Linked DNA regions of Homo sapiens. The protein of the gene in region 1 purifies or fractionates together with the protein of each later gene. This does not show direct contact. Each region holds a gene or a part of one and is shown in the gene's direction. Other genes may lie near its edges. The genes, in order: LIPC, LMF1 and MTMR1.

Region 1 (4,351 bases):
CAGAGTGATATTTTAAAACTATAATACAAATCATATCACCCTTCTGCTCAGAGTCGCCCCCCATGTGTCAATGCATAAAAGTCAAAGTCCTTACAATGTCTCCCCATTCATTGGCCTCCTTGCTATTCCTGGAGCACACCAGGCATACTCCTACCTCAGGGCCTTTGCACAGACTGCCCGAAGCTCTCCTCCCCAAGACGTCCACAGGGGCAACTCCTTCACTTCCTTCAAACCTTTGCTGAAAGTTTAACTTCCCAATGCAATTCACTCTAACCACTCTGCTTAAAATCCCTACCTTCTCCCCAACCCCCTGCTTTTCTTGTAGTGGTTCCCATTACATTCTACCAGTCTACCTAATTTTTTTTTTTTTTTTTTTGAGACGGAGTCTCTCTGTGTCGCCCAGGCTGGAGTACAATGGCGCGATCTCAGTTCACTGCAACCTCCGCCTCCCAGGTTCAAGCGATTCTCCTGCCTCAGCTTCCTGAGTAGCTGGGATTACAGGCACTCACCTCCACGCCCAGCTAACTTTTGTATTTTTAGTACAGATGGGGTTTCACCATGTTGGTCAGGCTGGTCTCGAACTCCTGACCTCGTGATCCGCCCTCCTCGCCTCCCAAAGTGCTGTGATTACAGGAGTGAGCCACCGCTCCTGGCCAGAAATCTCTTCTTTATTATGTCTACTGTCCGTTATCCAACTCCAGAAGGTAAGAACCTCCACTGATACATAAGGACTTGTATACCCCACGTGCCTGCAACAGTGCTTGGCACCTAGTAGGCATACCAAAATATATAAATGTTGAACAAATGAAGAAAGTTAAAGTAAAACTAGAGGTCCAAAAATATCACAAAAGCCATCTATGGTCGCCTTTTCCCTACCTGATTTTGCTGAGTGGCCTTACTTTTCAGTCCTCTACACAGCTGGAACATTAATGAACACAGAGGGGGAAGAAGTGTGTTTACTCTAGGATCACCTCTCAATGGGTCACTTGGCAAGGGCATCTTTGCTTCTTCGTCAGCTCCTTTTGACACGGGGGTGAAGGGTTTTCTGCACCACACTTTGACCACAAGCATCACCAATTTCACTGAACCCAACAGAAATTTGGACCCTCTGGGGGCTCTCTGCGTGGCAGGGCCCTTTTCTTTTTCTTTGGGCTTAGGCTGCAATTTGAAACACCACTTTCCTGAGCCAGCATCCCCCTTGCAGCGCTGTCACAGGGAGGCTTAGGCAGCCACGTGGAAGCCACCTACCCCGACCTTTGGCAGAATTTCCAAACACAACACAGTAGCTTTAAGTTGATTAATTTGGAACTCTGACCTTGGCCCCAAAAGGTAAGAATACATAACAAGGTATTTTATTCTCAAAATGTGTCAGGATAAGAAGCACTTCTGTAAATCGACCTTTTTAAAATAGATATAATTAGATTTGCAGTTGGGGGCAGTAAAGAAAGGGTCTGAACAGTGGATAACATGTTGAGAGGTTAATTATTAATGGGCAGTCTTCCCTAACAAAGTATCTAATAGGCATTGTGGTCTCTTTGGCTTCAGAAATTACCAAGAAAGCCTGGACCCCGGGTGAAACGGAGAAATGGACACAAGTCCCCTGTGTTTCTCCATTCTGTTGGTTTTATGCATCTTTATCCAATCAAGTGCCCTTGGACAAAGCCTGAAACCAGGTAAGAGCCTGACTTTTCTCCAGAGATGGGCATGAACTTTTCTTTTTAAAACGTGTGTCACAAAGAATCCAGGGGTTTCTGACTGTATGGGACAGAGCTTGCTTCAGAGCGTGCCAGGTGGTTCTATACACGACCTCACAGGTTCACAGGGACACGTAGCCGTTTGTAAACAGAAATGAAATTTTAGAAAATCATCCTCGGATTAAAAGTCTTCTAAGAGTGCCTGCAGCTAGCAGTGAAGTCTCTTGCGTATCTGATATGGAAACAGTCATGCTAAAAGTTATTCAGCGGCAAATGATATGAAAGCGATTCAGATCTTCCTGAGAGTTAATGTGGCATCTAATTTGCAACCGGGGAGCCAGGCTTGCAATGAAATGCTCTGTCGGGTTGGGGTTGTCTAATTGCCTGCCTCTCTCAGAAGAGAGGGGAATTTATGAGAGTTCTATTTCCAGTCAGGTCTAAAGTAGAGATATCATTGCACAATTTCTAGACTTTGTTTTGCTGCCAAAATTTTAGTCTGAGGCTGAAGAATCCAACAGCCGTCCTGCCTGTTTTGTTTGTAAATTCACAAACTAGATTGATGGCGAAAGACAGATCAAATGCCTTATCAGGAAGGTAGTAGAGTGGAGCCCAGCTTCCAGGCTAAGCAGTGGACCAATAAATGACGGATCAGTTAATTGAACAATTTGGCCAGACTAGACAGGTGTTTGGGAATTTGTTTTGGTACTGGTTACTGGTCAGGAGCTAGTAACGCTAAGGTAGAGTCTGAGATTTTTCTTTTCTCTAAGACTAGCCTTGGAGAGAGCTCCGACAACTTTGAGAATTAGAAATTCCCTAACGGGATGTACCTAAAAATTTCAGAAGCTTTTTTCCCCTTTAAGAAAAAGGCTGTTCCTTTGTATTTGACTATTTTACTTCATAGGCCAGTTAATAACTGAGTAGCAGTATTAATTATTGCCATTCACTAAGTATTTTCTGTGCCAAGCACTATACTAATTATTTTTGACACATCATCTCATTTATAAAGCCACATCCAAAAATGACCCTTACATAATAATTTAGAGCCATACAGGTAAAATTGCTGGTAATCTTTATTCCCTTGGTTCATAGTGATTTTGCTAAAGGGCCTTTCCTGCCCTTTGCCCCGGAATGTTGTATTTGTTTGTTTACTTTTTAATGAAGTTTATAACACACTTCTAGAAAAGGGCCTCTATCATAAATCCTCAATGAGTTCTCACAAACTGAACCAGTACCCCAAAGCCTTCCTTGTGTGCCCCTTGAGCCTTAACATATATGATTTTTTCCTTTGGGGAGATTTTTCATTAATAGAAACACATCAGTTGCTCTTTTGCGTCTGGCTTCTTTCGTTCGACATTATGTTTGTGAAAGTCAACCATGCAGTTTCGTGGAGTTGAGGCTCATTCATTCTCACTGCTGTAGCATTCCACTGCGGGACCATGCCACACTTCCTTTATCCATTCTACTGTGGATTGGCCAGGACTGTTTTTGCAATGGAGCCATGGGAATTGGAAGCTGTCAGTGCTGAGATAGAGGTTGAAGGGAGGGATGGCCTCCCCCAGGCTTCTGGGTATTGTCCAGATTTTCCTTGAGCAATCTCATTGTCCTGATCAGCCTGCTTCTTTCCCCGGGGCCTAGTTTGTGCAAATGCTGAGAGAAGTGGCCACTATTAGCAAGAGGGTTCCTCAGAAAAGAGGATCCAAGTCAGGAGGCCTCTTGTTCTCTTGGAAGCAGAATCTCTTGGCAGAATTCTTTCTGCAATGAGTGAGCCCAATCTGTGTGCATGTGGCTGGTATGATGTCTTTCTGGGGAAACCGCAGGGAAGCCGGTGTCCTGTGGTGGAGCCCTTGTCAGGAAAGTTTCTACACCAATGGTTCTCAACAGGGGCAATTTTGCCCTCCAGGGGACACTTGGCAATGTCTGGAGACATTTTTGGTTTTTGGTTGTTAAGACCAGGGAGAGAGTGCTTCCCTTCCAGCATCTAGTGGGTAGAGGCCAGGGAAGCTGCTTCACATCCTACAATGCACAGGACAGCCCTCACAACAATGAATTGTCTGGCCCAAAACATTATTAGTGCAGAGGCTGAGAAACCATGATCTATGCCAAGCTTCAACTGTCACTCATCGAGCACCAGGAAGTACTCCCTCAAGGACCCTTCCTCTTTAGCCCCTCCTCCCAGCCTACTTCTTTTGAGTATTTATTATTAATGACATCTTACTAATGGAGTCACTAATGTGCTGCACACCCAGCATGTGCCAGGCACTCCACGGACATTTTATCTCATCCTCACCATATGGTTGAGTAAGCTGGCAGTTAAGTGCCTTGCCGGCGGTCGCATAGCTGGTCAGGGCAGAGCAGGGAGAGGTACCTGCAGCCTCAATCTGTCTACTGAGGCCGCAGTGCTCTGTGTCGAGCCCACACCCAGTGATTTGACAGCCAGAGGTTTCTAGAAAAACATTCTGCTCAGTTCCTCTCACAGAGAGGGAGATTTAGACAGTTGTTCCTGCCCTTCAGCACTAAGGGGGACTGGATAGCGTGAGCTGCTTGAAGCCCACATGGCACATCACACTTATGCCCAGCCCCAATGCCTGAGACCCAGGTTCCCCAGTCGGTGTTGCCATGAGAGCCAACGCTGCTCCTAGACCCTGGCAAGTCCCACC
Region 2 (3,647 bases), on another chromosome or scaffold:
TGAGCGCGGGCGTGTCCTCGGCAGAGGGTCCCCACAAGCCACCTGTTCTCCGTGGCAGCTGACAGGCAGGAGGCTGCATCCAAAGATGCCACTCTTCCTTCTTGGGGCCATGCGCCGTTGGCCTCGGAACACCTGCTGCTCCGTCTCTTGGGCCCAGGATTCCATCACCTCAAGCTCCTCTTCCTGTGCCGGCCTTGGGGACCCCCTCGGGCCTCGCCTCCGCTCCCAGCCACCGGCCGGGTCATCTGTGGGCCGCACAGCCTTGTGAGGACTCCGCCGGCGGGGGCGAGCACAGATGGGCAGTGAGAAGACTGATTTCCCTCTGAGGAGATGGCTCAGTGATGCTAGAAGAAAAACAAGGAAGGCGAGGTCCCCCAGGAGCGCTCAGGCCGTGCACTCTACGCGGAACTGCGTTTTCATAACAAAACAGCCGACCAGATGGAGGGCGAGAGATGCACCAGAGCAGCTGAACGGGGCGCAGCTGGGGATGCCTCTGCATGGAGCAGGGCCCCGAGCCCCGAAGCTTTCTTAGAAACAGGATCTGATGCCCAGATCTGTGCTCTCTGGAGCCCTAGTTCCCTGAGGCTAGAGTTCCCCACTGAGCCCACAGCAGGATGACCCAAGGGGGCTTTGGAAATACACTCAGGCAGGGCCCACCCTGACCCAGGCAGGCAGGTGCTCAGGGCTGGGTGTTCCTCAAAGCTCCTGATGGTTCTGGCATGGCCGAGCATCCGAACGGGCACTGGCTCAGGCTGTGCCCCAGGTCGCTTTGGTCCCATCTGCCAGTCAGGCTGACCACAGCGAAGGGCCAGAAAGACCCGAGCTTTTCCCACCAGGACATTCCAGTGTCACCTGTGGCATCTCCTCCAGAGCATCCCCAAGAGTGGGCCCAAAGGTCAGACCTCAGTGCCTAGCCCTGCACCCTCCCTGTCACGGGAGCTCAGGGGCTCCCAGCCACCCCACCCCAGACCAGCCCTGGTCACACTCAGGACGGAGGGCATGGGGGTCTGGACCAGCGGAGGGGAGCTGGTGGCAGAGGTGGCTAACCCCAGCCAGGGCGAGGCGGGGCTGTTTTTGGCACAGGGGTTTAGTAACCTTGTAGACAGTGGAGAATAAGAAATAACTGTTTTGGGGCTCAGAACCAGAAAAGCTATTTTTCCCAATTCACCCAGGGAGAGCCATGAGTGCACAGTTCATAAAACACCATCATCGCCCATAACACTGATGTGGCTGCCCTCACGAGTCCCTTCATTAGACGTCGATGTCCCTGCCCTCAACCTTCCTCCTGAGTTACGGGGATAAAGGCTGGGCTTTGATGCATCAAATCTGGCTGACGGAGCTGTCTGAGGAAGCCACACCCAGGTCCTGCCGGCCCAGGGTCCACCGGCTCAGCTGCAGACCATCACCCATGCAGGGCGACCGGCCACGCAAGCTGCCCCTGTCTCCCTGATGCCTCCACGGCAACGGCAGGGGTGAGGTCTGGCAGCACACCTGTGATATCACCCGACGGAGCTGCAGGGACAGCGGCTCCATCTCCAGTTTCGTCACCTAACGATCGCTGGCCTGCGGGGATGTCCAGAAGCGGGTCCCTCTGAGTCCCTCCTGCCGCAGGTTTACTCACTGCTGCTGCTGAGTCTTTCCTTGGAGCTCTCCCAGCCGTGCTGCTCAGCCAGCCCTGCATGCAGCCCCTCCCCTCTCCTGCTGTTCATCTCTGTGGCACAGGGTCCTGTGCCTGTGTCTCACTTCCTTGCATTTCGTATTTTGGAGTGGGGGCGTTACTGGTGGCCCCCCCACGGCCCCTGTTGTCTGTGTCACCCATCGGCTGAGGGGCGTCCCCAGTACCCACTCTCCAAGCACAGCCTCCTCTGTTTGGACTCACCAGCCTTCCCCGGGCATGACCCCGGCAGGTGCCCTCTGAAAGTGAGGAGTTCCAGGAGGGCACAGGGTCTGGTGGTCTGGTCCAGCCCCCGCCTTGCGGATCACTAAAGCAAGGGACAGAACCTGCACAGAAATGTGCAGTCATGGGAGGAATGTTCTGGAAGCACCTGCCGGAAGGCACCTCTGAGGCATCTGCTGTCCCCTCCATGAAGGCACAGCTGGGTTTCAGTTGTGATGCTGGGCCCGAGGGACAGCAAGGGCAGAGCTGGGTGCAGGTTCCCTCCCCCCTCCCTGCTCCAGGAAGAGAGGCGCCAGCTGCCCAGGGGCCCCACACGAGCCCCTGCACGAGACTCAGCTGCGGCGTCTCCACAGGCCGTCCTCATCGTCAGCGGGAACCTCAGCTTCCTGAACTGGCTGACTATGGTGCCCAGCCTGGCCTGCTTTGATGACGCCACCCTGGGATTCTTGTTCCCCTCTGGGCCAGGCAGCCTGAAGGACCGAGTTCTGCAGATGCAGAGGGACATCCGAGGGGCCCGGCCCGAGCCCAGATTCGGTAGGTGGCTCAGCTGGGGGCCCCTGCCCAAGGGCAGGAGAAAGTCGGGTGGTGCCAGCCCCACAGCCTGCCCGTGTGGGTTGGGGACGCCAGGGTAGGAGGAGAGTCAGCGCCGTCCGCAGTGTAGCGTGCCAGGAACAAGGTGTGTGAGTTCGGGTGCTGCTCCGTCCCCGGGACCCAGGACAGCTGACCCTTAGGGAGCAGCAGCTGGGGTCTCCCCAGGGACAGGCCACGGGGCAGCTGGGAGCCCCACCTGGAAGATGTCACTCCCCTGCCAGGCTCCGTGGTGCGGCGTGCAGCCAACGTCTCGCTGGGCGTCCTGCTGGCCTGGCTCAGCGTGCCCGTGGTCCTCAACTTGCTGAGCTCCAGGCAGGTCATGAACACCCACTTCAACTCTCTTCACATCGTCAACACTTACGGGGCCTTCGGAAGGTATGAGCCTGGGGTCCCCGTCCCCCGGAGCTGGGTATATGGGGAGACTCAGCCCTGACCAGCCACATTCAGGTGGGGTTACAGTGCAGGCCCCCATGACCCCAAGTGTCCCCTGCCCCACCCCAGCCTGACCCAGGCACAGGCCGTGCTGTCCCCACTACCGGGCCTGGACACGCAGGCCTCCTCGTCCTGGTCCCATGAGGCAAAGGGGCAGGGCCCGAGGTCACCAGGCAGGTGGGCTGCGGCCCTGGAATGCCTACTGGGGGCGTAAGGGAGAGGCCACCAGGCCCCAACCCCCTGCGTGGGAATGCCAGGTAGTGCCACCTGAACACAGGCACCCTCCCTGTCCTGGGGCCAGCCCCTTGGCCTCTGTCCCCCTCATGTCCACCCTGAGCTGCCGAGGGGCATGGGGCACATGGCGGCTGCAGCTGGGTCTTCACGGGCAGAGAAGGTGTTCTCGAATGAGACCCTGGGGCCACAGTTCCCAAAAGTTCTCCTCAGCCCCACCCAGCCTCTCAGTAGCCCCTGACCAGGAGGCAGGTGGAGGCTGTAGCCCTCCCCCTGGGCCAGGATGGACAGTCGGGGAACCCCCCCCACCCATGCACCCCACTCGGCCCAGCCGGTGTGTGACGTGGGCCTGGCCTGCCTCGGTCTCCCGGCAGCATCACCAAGGAGCGGGCGGAGGTGATCCTGCAGGGCACAGCCAGCTCCAACGCCAGCGCCCCCGATGCCATGTGGGAGGACTACGAGTTCAAGTGCAAGCCAGGTGACCCCAGCAGACGGC
Region 3 (3,647 bases), on another chromosome or scaffold:
CTAGTAACTCAAATGTTTTCGGGATAGCAACCTCTTCAAATCTCATATCGAATTTAAACTATTATGTAACCCTTTGAAGTAAACCTTTTCCATCGAAGTCCAATTGTCCCTTGGTATCGGTGGGGGATTGATTCCAGGACCTCTGCCTCAGATACCCAAATCCATGGATGTCCAAGTCCTTTATGTCAAATGATGTAGTATTTGCATATAACCTAAGAACATTCTCCCATATACTTTAAATCATCTGTATATTGCTTATAATAACTAATACAGTGTAAACACTATGTAAATAGTTGTTATACTGTATTGTTTAGGGAATAATGACAAGAAAAAATGTCTGTGCATGTTCAGCACAAATGCAACCATCCTTTTAAAAAATATTTTCCATCTGCAGTTGTTCGAATCCTCCAATGTGGAACCCATGGATAGGAAGGGCTGACTGTATTTCTAATTAACGTGGACCTATAACCTAAGTGATTGTTTGTCACATCTCAGAGAAGTCAAGTGAAAAGCAGAGACCAATACATTTCCCCAGTTTGTTGTTTTAAGACTACGTTCAGAACAATGTGGATGGTCAGAGACTTCCTAAAGGGACAGCAGTGGCCCATAAATTCTGTGATTAAAAATGAGATTAAGTTTCTTGGCTATCTTGGAATTTTTATGTTGAGCTGGGCTTATTTGTTTATTTTGTACCCTTCTTCTAATAATTTAAGTAGAAATGTGTGTGATAACTTTAATCACGAAGTCATGTAGGACCCACTCCTAATTGATGTATTTTATTCCCAGTGACTTGACTTTGGTAATGTTTACCAAAAACCCTACCTGAAGTACCAGAAAAGAGATCCTGCCTGCAGGATCATCAGCGCCCCTTCCAAATTTTGGGTTAGGATTCCTTACAATCTATTTATTTTGATTCAATCTCTGAAGATAGCTCCCTCTGGTTGGTCCTAGACTGCGTTCAAAACCATTTTTTTTTTTTCCAAAGAACCCTTTACTCTTCCAGATCATGAATCTGTTGGCTTACTAAACTCACTTTAGTCACTCCCTGACAACTGTCCTTCTCAGGCAGGGTTCCCCATATGGAACAATGGCAAGCAGAGGGGTGACTTGATCGGTTCTGCAATTTTGAAACATGTCGTCCCCTTTCTCATGACGCTTGAGTATCTTCCCATTATCCTTAGACTAAAAGAAAAACTCTCCTTACAAGACTGCTCTGCCTGACCCACTTTCCTCTGCAGCTTGGTCTCGAACTGCCCTCCTCTCATTCTGGCCATCCCAGTCACATGGGCTTTCCTTTGGTGGTTCATACTTGACACACCCACCCACACACACACACACACACACACACACATCCCAGAATCTTTGCATGTGCTCTTTCCTTAGCTTGTAAGCAATCTTAAATAGCAAGTCAGCTCAGTCAGCCACCAAGGTGTATGTGTGTAGCCATGTAGCTTAGAGGGAGGGCATGTCAGGAAATTATGTTGCTTAGGCAGGCATCCTGGGGCTCTTTTACTAAGATATTTTTATGGCTGGGGTGAGCATTTGCTAACAACTGCTTTAAATGTTCTCTAACCTAGATTACTAAGGTAATGCTCCCAGCCTTCTCAGATCATGCCTAAGAGCTTTACAAGGTGTGGGGTTTATTTTTTAACAGGTGATATACAATTCAAAAGATACAAAAGCTGTGTATAGTAAAAAATCAGTCTCCTTCCACCCACCACCCTGCCACCCTGTTCCACTCATTTCAGGCACCCACTGTGGCCGATTTCTAATGTAACCCTCCACAGATAGCCTATGCACATGAGAATGTATGTATAGTCCTTCTTTGAAAACATAAGTGGGGCCAGGCGCAGTGGCTCATGCCTGTAATCCCAGCACTTTGGAAGGCCGAGGCAGTTGGATTACGTGAGGTCAGGAGTTTGAGACCAGCCTGACCAACATAGTGAAACCTTGTCTCTACTAAAAATGCAAAAATTAGCCGGTAGTGGTGGTGGGTGCCTGTAATCCCAGCTACTCGGGAGGCTGAGGCAGGAGAATTGCTTGAACCAGGGAGGCGGAGGTTGCAATGAGTGGAGACTGTGCCGTTGGAGCAGGATAAAGTATAAAAGGAGAAATGAATTAAAAAAAAATAATTTCCTTATTTATGGCACGGTATCTGGCTTATAGGTGCCTGATGTATGTTGAATAACCGAGTTTTGCTAATTGTTTAACAGGATATGAGGAACTTGCGGCTTGCTTATAAACAGGAAGAACAGAGTAAACTAGGGATATTTGAAAACCTCAACAAACATGCATTTCCTCTTTCTAACGGACAGGTAAATACACCAGAGTAAACCTTTTCTGCATGCATTTGTGGGGGTCCAAATATCCTATGTTTAATTATTCCTTTTTCCAGAGGTTTTTTTTTTTCCTCTCTTTTTTCCTCTGTTGGTGACTAATATTAGAATATTTGAAATTTGTCAGTTCTGGGTAATGCTTAAGAAAAGCTGCTACTTTGTTGCTGTAAAATTTACAGACTAAAATAGGAATCTTAATACACTCAGCTCATATTAGAATGAAAAGCTTTAATATTGGGTATATGATATAAAAAGAAATAGTAACATATGTGTTTTGTGGTTTTTGTGTCCAGGCACTATTTGCATTCAGCTATAAAGAAAAATTTCCAATTAATGGCTGGAAAGTTTATGATCCAGTATCTGAATATAAGAGACAGGTAAAGTATATTGCTTATCAAACTGAAAATAATAGGTTGAGCATCTTTTTCTCTTCTAAAAGGTTAGAAATGATGTGGTGGAGAAGAAACTTTTTCGAACAAGTTATGCACAGGTTTAACTGCTAGCTTATAGGTTCTCCATCTTTCCTTGATTCTCTCTTCTCCCTGTGCCAAACCTTAGACTTTGTCATGTTTGTTCATCCTGTTTCCAGAGGGTGAGTGGGACTCAAGGACAAGGACGGGTTTAAAAACCAAATTTGCCAGATGGTTTTTATTAGATGTTCTGGTAAAGAATTGATGAGTAAGGATCCAAACCACTGACTACAGTTAGATTCGAAGCATGTGGTGTGACTACATCTGTCTGATCCAGTGTTCCCGGGTCTGGGAACTCTTCAGTGCATTGTCAGCTTCAAATTATTCCACTAAGATCTTATTTTCATGACGTTTGTTTCATGACGTTGTCTCTACCTTATATTTGGTATAATGTTTTACGTTACTTATTTTAGACATTCGTAAGAGGTATCTGTGTTTCTAAAGGACTTTTGAGTATATTCTCAAAAATAACAGAGCTCATTATTTATAGAAAATAGGACAAGAAATATATAGAAATGTGATTCTAGCGTATAATTTTCATGTTTTAGTATGGTTTGGATATTCTTATGCTTCTTTAGATTTTTAGAAATGTCTAGGAAATGGGTTTTACCGAATAAATATATATATTGACTTTTAAGTTACAATAAACAATAAATTATAAACGGATTTTAGTTGCAAATAAGAAATGGATGTACTTCATGCTTAGTACTTTTTCAAAGTGTAAAGTCATGCATTTCACCCTCTTCTTCTTTCTCCAACACCTTACAGGGCTTGCCAAATGAGAGTTGGAAAATATCCAAAATAAACAGTAATTATGAGTTCTGTGACACCTACCCTGCCA

What was found.
Region 2: the proteins of LIPC (region 1) and LMF1 purify together in Homo sapiens (affinity purification with western blotting, with the first as the bait; one study listed by BioGRID). This does not show direct contact.
Region 3: the proteins of LIPC (region 1) and MTMR1 purify together in Homo sapiens (affinity purification with mass spectrometry; 2 studies listed by BioGRID and IntAct, with this or other methods). This does not show direct contact.

The regions. Positions count from the first base shown.
Region 1 is NC_000015.10:58,430,448-58,434,798, forward strand, and holds the start of LIPC (hepatic triacylglycerol lipase precursor), read left to right. Parts: upstream 1-1,543; 5' UTR 1,544-1,585; coding exon 1,586-1,673; intron 1,674-4,351. UniProt on the Homo sapiens protein: Catalyzes the hydrolysis of triglycerides and phospholipids present in circulating plasma lipoproteins, including chylomicrons, intermediate density lipoproteins (IDL), low density lipoproteins (LDL) of large size and high density lipoproteins (HDL), releasing free fatty acids (FFA) and smaller lipoprotein particles.
Region 2 is NC_000016.10:869,945-873,591, reverse strand, and holds part of LMF1 (lipase maturation factor 1), read left to right. Parts: intron 1-2,250; coding exon 2,251-2,431; intron 2,432-2,709; coding exon 2,710-2,863; intron 2,864-3,525; coding exon 3,526-3,647. UniProt on the Homo sapiens protein: Involved in the maturation of specific proteins in the endoplasmic reticulum. Required for maturation and transport of active lipoprotein lipase (LPL) through the secretory pathway. Each LMF1 molecule chaperones 50 or more molecules of LPL.
Region 3 is NC_000023.11:150,727,896-150,731,542, forward strand, and holds part of MTMR1 (phosphatidylinositol-3-phosphate phosphatase MTMR1), read left to right. Parts: intron 1-2,213; coding exon 2,214-2,315; intron 2,316-2,629; coding exon 2,630-2,713; intron 2,714-3,574; coding exon 3,575-3,647. UniProt on the Homo sapiens protein: Lipid phosphatase that specifically dephosphorylates the D-3 position of phosphatidylinositol 3-phosphate, generating phosphatidylinositol. Could also dephosphorylate phosphatidylinositol 3,5-bisphosphate to produce phosphatidylinositol 5-phosphate.